3 separate regions of the Homo sapiens genome follow, and regions 2 and 3 are each reported to be linked to region 1. The links are microRNA targets in miRTarBase. Many come from high-throughput screens and were not tested one by one. Region 1 holds a microRNA gene; each other region holds the end of a gene's coding sequence.

Evidence for each region. The annotated mature microRNA hsa-miR-548k reads AAAAGUACUUGCGGAUUUUGCU and lies in region 1 at 2,229-2,250, shown strand. An mRNA with a match to its seed (bases 2 to 7 or 8) in the 3' UTR can be bound and repressed. Matches are read on the target gene's strand: a 7mer-m8 pairs with bases 2 to 8, a 7mer-A1 pairs with bases 2 to 7 and ends in A, and an 8mer does both.
Region 2: miRTarBase lists ANGPTL3 as a target of hsa-miR-548k. The part of its 3' UTR that is shown has no 7-base or 8-base seed match.
Region 3: miRTarBase lists UHMK1 as a target of hsa-miR-548k. Seed matches in the 3' UTR shown: 8mer at 476-483, 8mer at 1,083-1,090, 7mer-A1 at 1,334-1,340 and 7mer-A1 at 2,053-2,059.

What each region holds. Positions count from the first base shown.
Region 1 is chr11:70,281,758-70,285,910 of GRCh38, forward strand. It overlaps MIR548K (microRNA 548k), which reads left to right and starts at 2,198; the gene lies at 2,198-2,313. All of the region lies in intron 2 of PPFIA1 (PPFI scaffold protein A1), which reads left to right.
Region 2 is chr1:62,604,159-62,608,158 of GRCh38, forward strand. ANGPTL3 (angiopoietin like 3) reads left to right here. Exons shown (of 7, transcript NM_014495.4): 6 at 1-77; 7 at 475-2,155. The coding sequence ends at 659. The region is part of intron 14 of DOCK7 (dedicator of cytokinesis 7); the gene reads right to left. Among named protein-coding and RNA genes, the nearest start is that of ANGPTL3, 8.6 kb to the left of the region's middle.
Region 3 is chr1:162,522,171-162,526,170 of GRCh38, forward strand. UHMK1 (U2AF homology motif kinase 1) reads left to right here. Exons shown (of 8, transcript NM_175866.5): 8 at 234-4,000. The coding sequence ends at 380. Among named protein-coding and RNA genes, the nearest start is that of UHMK1, 26 kb to the left of the region's middle.

The sequences.
Region 1 (4,153 bases):
TCAGTGGGCCTCTCTTTGGTTTGGAATGTTGGTCCCTTCATTTGTGGCTGCCTTGGCATCTCTTTGATGCCTGCAGACTTTCAAGTCATACTCACCTTTTCTAGTTTTTGGTGGGTTGCCGGGCTACAGGCCACCCCGCGTATCACTGAAACTGGAGCTGAAGCGGGCGTGCTCTCTCTGTCTGCAGCATATGCGGAGTCTGGAGACATTGGTTATCATTACTTGATAGGGAGCATACAGAACCCACTCACCTCGCTTAGGCTACCTTGTCCAGTTTCTTTTTTTTTTTTCCAGTCTGCTTCTCATGACATTGTCCAGTTTCTAATCAGAATCCCCCATTTGCCCCTGCCCAGTCACTTAACCACTTAAAGACAGTAGAGCAAGTGGCCTGCCCAGCGGGAGACACAGCCCTTGGCCTCCAATTCCCGTCTTGGCCACTGTGTGGGCTGTTCCACCCTGCTGTAGTCTCTACTCTTCCCCATGCCCTGTGTCAGACCGAGGGAGGGTTTGTGATGACATATCTGGCAGTGGCAAAGAAGGAGGCTAGGGAGGTAGGAGAGGTTGTGTGCGTGGTGTTTAGTCTTACTTTGGAGATGGGGTCTTGCTGTGTTGCCTAGGCTGATCTCCAACTCCAGGGCTCAAGCCATCCTTCTGCCTTGGCTTCCTGAGTAGCTACCACTACAGGCATGAACCAGTGTGCCCAGCTACCTAATGTTTATTCTATGACTTGATCCCATGTATGTTTCCTTTTTGAGTGCTGATTTTTTTTTTTTTTTTTTTTTTTTTTTTGAGATGGAGTCTTGCTCTGTCACCCAGGCTGGAGTGCAGTGGCGTGATCTCGGCTCACTGCAAGCTCCACCCCCTGGGTTCACACCATTCTTCTGCCTCAGCCTCCCCAGTAGCTGGGACTACAGGTGCCCGCCACTACATCCAGCTAGTTTTTGTTTTGTATTTTTAGTAGAGACAGGGTTTCACCATGTTAGCCAGAATGGTCGCGATCTCCTGACCTCATGATCCACTGCATGCCTTGGCCTCCCAAAGTGCTGGGATTACAGGCGTGAGCCACCGTGCCTGGCTTTTTTTTTTTTTTTTTTTTTTTAAGAAGGAATTTTGCTCTTGTCGCCCAGGCTGGAGTGCAATGGTGCGATCTCAGCTCACTGCAACCTCCATGTCCCAGGTTCAAGCGATTCTCTTGCCTCAGCCTCCTGAGTAGCTGGGACCATAGGCGTGCATCACCATGCCCGGCTGATTTTTGTATTTTTAGTAGAGACGGGGTTTCACCATGTTGGTCAGGCTAGTCTTGAACTTCTGACCTCAGGTGATCTGCCCGCCTCAGCCTCCCACAGTGCTGGGATTACAGGCATGAGCCATCATGCCTGACCGACTGACCGAGTGCTTTTTTTTTTTTTTAAAGCAAATATTGCCTTTGGGCTTCTCTCTAATTTCATTTTAAAGTTTCAGTTGCATTTTCAAATGGAGATTTTATTTTAAACTGGAGTGCAGTGATTTTTACAGTCTTTTTGAAAGCAACAAATGAGATTTTTAGAAGACCTCTTGCTTGAAGAACTCTTTTGTGTGAAACCTAGAAGAGAGACTGTTCACCTTTCATTGCAGGTGAGGTCCCAAATTTTGCCAGTCTCTCTCCCAATCTGCCAATCCCTGAAGCAGGGGGTACAAAACTCAGAAGATTCTAAGGAATGAGGTCTTCAAATCAAATCCAAACTTAGTGAAAAAGAAGTCTACCTGTGTCAGGGGTGTTCCCTGTCAAAGTGATGGGTGAGCTTCAGCTGGTTGCAGTGGAAGGTGTGCTGGATGGATTGAGGAGGCGAGAGGGTGCAAGACAGCCCATTTAGGAGGCAGTTCCTGCAATGTGGGCATGAAGTGTTACAGCCCAAACTAGGATGCTAGAATCCGAGGGCAGAGGGCAGTAGAAAAGAACAACCTGGCGGAATTGTGTAGGACTAGAGGATGACAGCCGAGTGGCAGATACCAGGGTCAAGCTTGCGGGGAGAAGGGGGACGGGGGTGGGGGAGAGTAAAGAGGAGACGCTGGTGTTTGGTGGTGTTGAGAGGTATTTGTGGTTGTCACAGCTAGGGCAGGGATGCTCCTAAACATTCTGCAGTGGAGCCCCCTCAACAAAGAATTATCTGGCCCCAAATGTTGGAAGTGTCCAGGTTTAGGTATAAAGAATCAGAAGCTTTTCTCAAGTATTGCTGTTAGGTTGGTGCAAAAGTACTTGCGGATTTTGCTTTACTTTTAATGGCAAAAACCGCAATTATTTTTGCTTCAACCTAATATGATGCAAAATTGGCTACAACTGTAATTTGTTGAGTGCTGCAAACAAGGTACTTGCTAAGCTTAACTTTAGTGAACAAATTAGGAAGAATTGGAATAAGGTAAAACTAGCTAAATGACTCTTCCCTGAGAATAAATACTAATGACTGCCCCTTCAGATGGTGCCCCCTCATCTGCTTTACTGACTGTTTCTTAGTAGTAGTTGGCAAAACACCTCTTAAAATACCATACTTGTTTTCATCGTCTTTGGTGTATGAAATAGTTGAATATATCCTTTCAGAATAATATTTGGCCATTTACATCTCTCTTTTGCACACACTGAATTTGCCATCTTGTCTTCCTGTTCCTACACCTTTAATTGTCAGCAAGGAGACAGAGTCCTTCCTCCTATTTTGTTGAGCCCTGTGTGAATATTACCGTTCTAGGCTCCTGCAGTCAGTGGTAGAGACAGGGTCTCTGCCTGCAGAAGACTTTCACAATATACCCATGCTCAAAGCAGGTGCAGGTTGCGAGACACATCCAGATAGAATGAAGTGGTTCAGAAGAAATCCATGATCTCGACTGAGTGGGGTGGGCTGCCAGGCACACTGTGGTCCAGAAAGGTGAGGCTTTCGAGGGGATTGGCTTAGAGCTGAGGGATGAAGGCTAAGAGGAACCAGGTATGAGAGCTTTCTTGGCGGTGGGGCTACTTGAGCAAAGGCCAGAGCAAGGGAGAGCTTAGCATTTAGCTGAGTCAAAGCTGGGGTCTGTGGCCATGGTTACTTGGCCTGGAGGGAAGGGAAGAGTGAACATGGTAAGGTTGGCTAGGTAGGTTGGGATGGGATCAGACAGAGGTGAAGACTTGCTTGTTTTTGTTTTAAGTACCTTAGGGCTTCAGTACTTTGCGTGCATCGTGGCCTCAGGGGAGGGAATGATGTGATTTAGCTGCGTTGTTATTTATTTATTTTTATTTATTTATGTATTTCTTTATTTAAGATGGAGTCTTACACTGTTGCCCAAGCTGTAGTGCACTGGCATGATCTCGGCTCACTGCAACCTCTGCCTCACAGGTTCAAGCGATTCTCCTGCCTCAGCCTCCCAAGTAGCTGGGATTACAGGCGCCCGCCACCGTGCCCGGCTAATCTTTAGTAGAGACGGGAGTTTCACCACGTTGCCCAGGCTGGTCTTGAACTCCTGACCTCAGGTGATCCTCCCTCCTTGGCCTCCCAAGTTTTTAAAAGATCATGCTATGTGGATAATGAGCTGGGGATGGAGGGAAGAATGGACCTAGGGTGGAAACCACTGGTTAGAGTAGAGCCACTTCAAGTGCATGGGTTTGGGCTATAAAGTTAGTGCTGTGAGCAAAAATTAAAAACTCTTGCCGGGTGCGGTGGCTCATGCCTGTAATGGGAGGCCGAGATGGGCAGATCACGAGGTCAGGAGTTCGAGACCAGCCTGGCCAACATGGTGAAACCCTGTCTCTACTAAAAATACAAAAATTAGCTGGGCGTGGTGGTGCGCAGCTGTAATCCCAGCTACTCGGGAGTCTGAGGCAGGAGAATCGCTTGAACCTGGGAGGTGGAGGTTGCAATGAGCTGTGATCGCACCACTGCACTCCAGCCTGGGGGACAGAGTGAGACTCTGTCTCAAAAAAAAAAAAAAAACCTCTTAACATCACCCATCACATAAGGCACAGAACAATGTGTACTTTTTAATTATCATATACATAAATGCATACTGTTTTCATGCAGTATACATAATGTTTATGTATATAGTGTATACATGAATGTATTCAGGTATTTTGAGTGTCTGTATGTGGCATGCACCGTTCTAGGTGCTGAATATTCCATAGGTAAAAAGGGTTATTTAGCCCACATTT
Region 2 (4,000 bases), not on the chromosome of region 1:
GGAAAACAAAGATTTGGTGTTTTCTACTTGGGATCACAAAGCAAAAGGACACTTCAACTGTCCAGAGGGTTATTCAGGTATCTTTTTCTGATACCAATACTTTATTTTCATATCTTCAAAGTATCTTCCCACATTATTAGCTATTATCTGCAATGACAACTTTTAAAAATCCGAATCCCAAATAAGCGTTTTCTCTCTAGACGAAAACCTCTTAACTATAATGAAAGTGTTCATTCTAGTTCAATCAGGTATTTTACCTCTAATCTTCCTCAGATTTTCTATTTTTTGGTAGTGTATAGATTATTTATACAGATTATTTAAAATTGGGACTTATACAGATTATTTAAAACTGGGATACATGCATCTAAAACACTGTAATATTTATAAGAAAGGAAGATAAACTTACGGGGAAATACAGTAACAGTAACTACATACGAGTCTGTACCCATTAAATTGCATATCTATCTCCTTTAGGAGGCTGGTGGTGGCATGATGAGTGTGGAGAAAACAACCTAAATGGTAAATATAACAAACCAAGAGCAAAATCTAAGCCAGAGAGGAGAAGAGGATTATCTTGGAAGTCTCAAAATGGAAGGTTATACTCTATAAAATCAACCAAAATGTTGATCCATCCAACAGATTCAGAAAGCTTTGAATGAACTGAGGCAAATTTAAAAGGCAATAATTTAAACATTAACCTCATTCCAAGTTAATGTGGTCTAATAATCTGGTATTAAATCCTTAAGAGAAAGCTTGAGAAATAGATTTTTTTTATCTTAAAGTCACTGTCTATTTAAGATTAAACATACAATCACATAACCTTAAAGAATACCGTTTACATTTCTCAATCAAAATTCTTATAATACTATTTGTTTTAAATTTTGTGATGTGGGAATCAATTTTAGATGGTCACAATCTAGATTATAATCAATAGGTGAACTTATTAAATAACTTTTCTAAATAAAAAATTTAGAGACTTTTATTTTAAAAGGCATCATATGAGCTAATATCACAACTTTCCCAGTTTAAAAAACTAGTACTCTTGTTAAAACTCTAAACTTGACTAAATACAGAGGACTGGTAATTGTACAGTTCTTAAATGTTGTAGTATTAATTTCAAAACTAAAAATCGTCAGCACAGAGTATGTGTAAAAATCTGTAATACAAATTTTTAAACTGATGCTTCATTTTGCTACAAAATAATTTGGAGTAAATGTTTGATATGATTTATTTATGAAACCTAATGAAGCAGAATTAAATACTGTATTAAAATAAGTTCGCTGTCTTTAAACAAATGGAGATGACTACTAAGTCACATTGACTTTAACATGAGGTATCACTATACCTTATTTGTTAAAATATATACTGTATACATTTTATATATTTTAACACTTAATACTATGAAAACAAATAATTGTAAAGGAATCTTGTCAGATTACAGTAAGAATGAACATATTTGTGGCATCGAGTTAAAGTTTATATTTCCCCTAAATATGCTGTGATTCTAATACATTCGTGTAGGTTTTCAAGTAGAAATAAACCTCGTAACAAGTTACTGAACGTTTAAACAGCCTGACAAGCATGTATATATGTTTAAAATTCAATAAACAAAGACCCAGTCCCTAAATTATAGAAATTTAAATTATTCTTGCATGTTTATCGACATCACAACAGATCCCTAAATCCCTAAATCCCTAAAGATTAGATACAAATTTTTTACCACAGTATCACTTGTCAGAATTTATTTTTAAATATGATTTTTTAAAACTGCCAGTAAGAAATTTTAAATTAAACCCATTTGTTAAAGGATATAGTGCCCAAGTTATATGGTGACCTACCTTTGTCAATACTTAGCATTATGTATTTCAAATTATCCAATATACATGTCATATATATTTTTATATGTCACATATATAAAAGATATGTATGATCTATGTGAATCCTAAGTAAATATTTTGTTCCAGAAAAGTACAAAATAATAAAGGTAAAAATAATCTATAATTTTCAGGACCACAGACTAAGCTGTCGAAATTAACGCTGATTTTTTTAGGGCCAGAATACCAAAATGGCTCCTCTCTTCCCCCAAAATTGGACAATTTCAAATGCAAAATAATTCATTATTTAATATATGAGTTGCTTCCTCTATTTGGTTTCCTTAAAAAAAAAAAAAACTCTCATAGGACATGTTTCATTTTGTTCCTTTCAGGAGTAGTAAATTAGACGTTTTCCCCATATAAAGCTTTTTTCTACCAGAAAGATACTTCTGGTAGAAGAAGAGAAAGGAGCTCTTTATGGTTCACACGACTGTCTCCTGTCCTAACTACTTTGCTTAAAGTGCTCAAATTCCATCACTACTCACAGTTGTCTAATCTAAGTCTAATCCCCTTTGATCTCTCAGACTACCTTCCCTTTTATCTCTCTACTACTTAATAATAAGAATATCTTTTTTTCAAACTTGACCTTCATTTTGCTTTCACAATACTATACTCTCCATGGATTATCCCTTATCTGAATCCATCTTTATAACCCTATTCCTTTCTCATATTTAGTACTGTGGGCCAATGGACAACCTTCAATCATCTTTTCTACACTGACCCTCAGACATTCTATCTGCTCTCACGGACTCCTTTATTTACCATGAATAAAGTTCCAAAATCTACATATTCATCCCAAGTCTCTTTCCAGTTCCCCTTCTTACATTGCCTATTTGCCATTTCTCCCTTCAATACCCTATACTTCACTCAAATTCAACATACCAAAAATAAAAGGCCAGGCACGGTGGCTCACACCTGTAATCCCAGGACTTTGGGAGGCTGAGGCAGGTGGATCACCTGAGGTCAGGAGTCTGACCAGCCTGACCAATATGGTGAAACCCCGTCTCTACCTAAAATACAAAAATTAGCCAGGCGTGGTGGCATGTGCCTACAGTCCCAGCTACTCAAGAGGCTGAGACAGGAGAATCGCTTGAACCCAGGAGGCGGAGGTTGCAGTGAGCTGAGATCACACCAATGCACTGGGTGACAGAACAAGACTGACTCAAAAAAAAATAAATAACAAATTCCCCAGCCCCTTACTGCTACTGCTATCCCTTTCTACCCACCTTTCCCTCCTTTATACTCTTTCACACCATCTTCCTCACTTCTTTATATCCATTAATATGACCAGCATGTTCCCAGTCACAGAAGCCTGGAACCCGGAAGACATCTCTGGCTTTTCACTCAACTTTGTAAACTACCTCTTTTGTATCATAAGCCACCAAGTTCAATACAATCTTCTCTTGAAACGTCTCTTAATCTTATAAGCTTTCTTCCCCAAAGACTGTCTTTAACTTCAGTGCTAGATTATATAAGTAGTCTCTTCTTTCCTCCTAATTTTACGTCCCTCTCCCTGTCAATCTTCCGAAAAGGAATTTGTAATGGCTGCATACTGCCTGGACCTGTGTCTTTCAAGCTCATCTACTGAAGAAGTGTAACAGCAGAGGATAATGAAAACAAATCCTTTTATTGTCTGGAGTTACAGGATAAAATAACTTACTATATGCACAAATTTCTTTCAGAATCTTATTGGGATCTTAGCTTAAATCTTAGAATTTTACTTTAAAATTGCATATGAATTGTGTTTTATACTTTATAAATCTATCTTCATGCCTGCAGTGGCTCACACCTGTAATCCAAGTATTTTGGGAGGCCGGGGCGGGAGTACTGCTTGAACCCAGGAGTCCAAGATCAGCCTGTGCAACACGGCAAAACTCCACCTCTACAAAAAATACAAAAATTAGCTGGGTGTGGTGGCAGGTGCCTGTAATCCCAACTACTTGGGAGGCTGAGGCAGGAGAATCGCTGGAGCCTGGGAAGTCAAGCCTGCAGCGAACCATGATCCTAACACTGCATTCTAGCCTGGGCAACAGAGTGAGACTCTGTCTCAAAAAAAATCTTCATATAAAAATATTTATTTCCCCCCAAGTATTTAAAAAGTGATGTTCCTAGAAGATGTGTCATGT
Region 3 (4,000 bases), not on the chromosome of region 1:
TGAGGAAGTATTCTAAACCTTGCTGTCCTGAAGTATAGTTCATAGACCAGCAGCATTGGCATCACCTGGAAGTTTGTTTAGAACAGAAACTCAGGCGACATCTCAGACCTAAGGAAGCAAAATCTGCATTTTAATAACATCTCCAGTTGATGTATATATATTAAAGGTGGTAAAGCACTGGTCTAAAACAATCTTGGTGGAAATGAAATGTTTTTTTCTCTGTCTTCTTTCAGGTCTTTGTTGAGTATGCAAATGCTGGTGATTCCAAAGCTGCGCAGAAATTACTGACTGGAAGGATGTTTGATGGGAAGTTTGTTGTGGCTACATTCTACCCGCTGAGTGCCTACAAGAGGGGATATCTGTATCAAACCTTGCTTTAATCAGTAACCTAAGGACTGTTTCCTTTTTCTCCTCTTCCATTTCTTGGGTTATTCCACATATGAATGCAGGACTACCCCCTTACCATTTTAAGAAGGTACTTTATACATTTATTTAATCCTACTAATGTGCAGCCATTGCCCAAGCAGTGACTGCGTTGCATACATTTGGCACTGAGTAGGACAAGACCTCTCAGCTATACATTGAGGGGTTTTAGAGCATCCATGTGGGCAACCCTTTTTTGTGCGGGAGAGCAGGTGTTGCTCTTCAGTATGTAGCCTAAAAAAATCTTAATTATTTCATGGATCATGAAGCAAGGATGAATAATATCATGTCTTGGTAAATACTAACAAATTTGTTAGGTTTGGTGACATCATTTACAGATTATTTCTTTATGTTGTCCAGTGGTTCTTCCTTATTGTTGATATCCATAAGCTGGCACTGGATGCTCTCAGTAATGTTAAGTAATTGTCAAGCAGCAGTTACCTACTGTGTTCTTAACACTGAGTTGTGAATTTTTTCTTAAAGCAGTACTGTAGTACTGAATATTCCTTTAAAGGAACTGCAGTGAGCCTATCTAAGTTTTTTTAAATTAAGGCTTTTAAAATAGAAAGCTGATGCTTGATCTTGCACAATTTTTATGTCTAGTATGTATGCTTGAGTGAATGTGCGAGTATGAATGATTAGAGAAAATTTGAGTCAGTGTACTTTATAGTGTGAATCCTGTGAGCTAATACAGTCTATACTTATTTCTTCCCTACCTGTTTCACATCCGTAAGATTTAAGATATACATTTTTTGAGAGGTAGTCTGTCTGATACAATGTAAATGACAAAACATAATTCCTGAGAGGCCCAGAACAAACTGGAGTCTAGCCTGGAGTTAAATTGAGACTTCTAAAATGATTGGAACAAAGACTAAGTTGTGCCAGATGTAAATCAACCCCTCTTTTAGTTTACTTTAGACTTTGTATTAGCTCATCTTTTTTGTAGTAAATCTATAGTTTTAAGGTTTCTCAAGATGTGGCTCTACCTACTATGATGAAAATTGAAGTGGGTCAAAAGAATTAGATGTACAGTGAAGGGAAAAGAAAAAAAATGGGCGAAGAGAGGGTGGAAAATAAAAGGATTCTTTTTTCTTCCTTTCTGTTTCTCGTATCCCTGCTCCCTTTTTCCTCCCCTTCCCTCATTCTTTGCCTCTATCCTTAGCTGAAGACAAACTAGAGGAGCAGCATCCCAGGTAGTTTGGCTTTTGACTGCAAGGTAGTTAAGAAAGGTGTAGATATAATGAGGTAGAAGTAGAAAGGAAGAAAAACTCAAAGAATTCTTAAAAGGATTCATAGCAACATAATGTGTCCCTGAGTAGAGGATGCTGCTATGCGTGAGTTCATGGACACAAGTTGATTACATGGTTTTTAGAATTATAATTATGGATTCTTCTTATTTCATGGTAGGTTGTCTTTAAAGATATAAAAATTAGGATGCCTTTATGAAGCACTGATTATACCAAAAAAAAAAGACAAGTTATATACAGGTTATTAATTTTTTTATTTATTTATTTTTTCCTAAGGAAAAAGTCTTCTATCTTTCCCTGCTGGAAGCCTCCTCATATTTCCTTATGTTTGCCATGCAGGTTGCTGAGAGTCCAGTTAGAATTTGCATTTTACAGAATGAAATACTTTACCCCATTCAAACAATTATTGTTTGACATTTTAGTTATTTATAATTGTCAAATTCAGGACTCTCCTTTAATGTTTATTATGAAACCAAATTTGGCATAAGGAGGCTGATTTATGAATTACCAAAGGGTCTTGTGGCATGTTCCCCAATACATGCCCTTAGAAGGAAGAACTATTATTTTTTATTTTGGCCCTTTCAGGAGTTGATTATAAATTGGTTTGTTTTCAAGTCAGAATTCAAGTGGGCAGAACCCGTATTGTGAAGACCTAAACTTTCCTAAATGTTCATATGGGTAGCAGATTTTGTGGTGATTAGAAACATCAGGTCCTTAAATACGATGAACATGGGATACAAAGGAATTCTTTATAAGGGCAAGTATCCTAAGTTAGCACATTTACTTTTCTCTCCCCTCCGCCCCCAAAAGAAAAATCCTTACAAATAAACTGCAGGTAGGCTTCTAAGCCTAGTCCTGCAGTATGCTGCTAACATCTTGATGCCAATCTTCACAGCATTCTTTGATTGTCATCTTATTGCTGATACATTCATACATATATTTAGTGCTTGACACTGTAGAATTTTGTTACAGAAGATGGTTACTAGATTTTAAGGGAGCTGAGGGAATAATTGATGAGCCTTGAATTAACCATGCATTTAATTAGATTTTTTGTTGTTGTTGTTGTTGTTTTGAGATGATGTCTTGCTCTGTTGCCCAGGCTGGAGTGCAGTGGCTCAATCTCGGCTCACTGCAACCTCTGCCTCGCAGGTTTGAGCGATTCTCCTGTCTCAGCCTCCCCAGTAGCTGGGTTTACAGGCGCTTGCCACCACACCTGGCTAGATGTTTTATATTAAAGCCAGAGAATTGAAAAAGAAATGCCTCCTGTGATTGAAATTATTTTATAGCTCTTAGCCCGTTCTACCAAAGATCACATTAGCAGATTACCCCTCCCTCCTGTGATATTATCTTTCTTAAACCTGAACCAAATATCAAAAGATACAAGTTTCATGATTAGGATGAAATATATACATAGGGATTTTGGTTTATTGAAGTTATTGAAAGACCTAGAAATTTTCTTTTTGAGAGAAAGGGTAAAGAGGTGAGGGTTCATGTCACTTAACCCCTACCCTTTTGGGCAAATTTTGTCTCAGGTAGTGTTTCATTCCCTAAATTAATACCTGTGCTTCCTTGCCTCTCACCTTCCCAGTTACTTCTTTGGGGTATTACTGTGGCACATTGTACACCCAGAAAAGGCACATACAGTGATTATTTTGTGGGAAATACTTGATTCTTTTGAAATATATTTGGAGGGGGTAGCTAGCTAGCCACTGTCAAAACTAATGCTGTATTTACAGGACAAAAACAAGTAGAGTTGGACACCTCAGTAAGAGACAGCATTAACTAAAAGTACTGACTGCCTTTTAAAGGAATTTTTAAAACTATTCTCTTGCAATAAGAGATCCGCATTTATTACCACTGGATGTCTTCCTTTTTTGTGGCCACCAATATAGCAGCTCTCTTTAGAGGGATTCCCTTTCTGCTATGCCTTGAGCCAAACTGGCTGCTTTTAGAACAAAAACCATAAGTATGGTTTTACTCGAACTTCTCTTTGTTTTTATTGAGAGAAATATTGCCTTCTTTTTGGTACTCCAGCTGCTAAAGAGTGCTGAGATATGTTAAATTATTTTTTAAAAGAAAATCTCCAAATACTTATTTAACTTGTCTTCTAGATTCATGTTGCTTATATTTTAACTATTGAGCAAGTTTATTATAAGGAATGCTGCCATATAGAGAAAGCTGAAGAGAAACCATGGGCAGAAGGCTTTTTTCTGTCTTATTACACTGGACCTTCACTCTGGTAAGGGCATCAGTTACTTTTCTGGAATAAAAGGCGGAGTTAGAGCACTTATCAGATGCTGTTTCATGGCTTGTTTTAGTTAATTTATCAT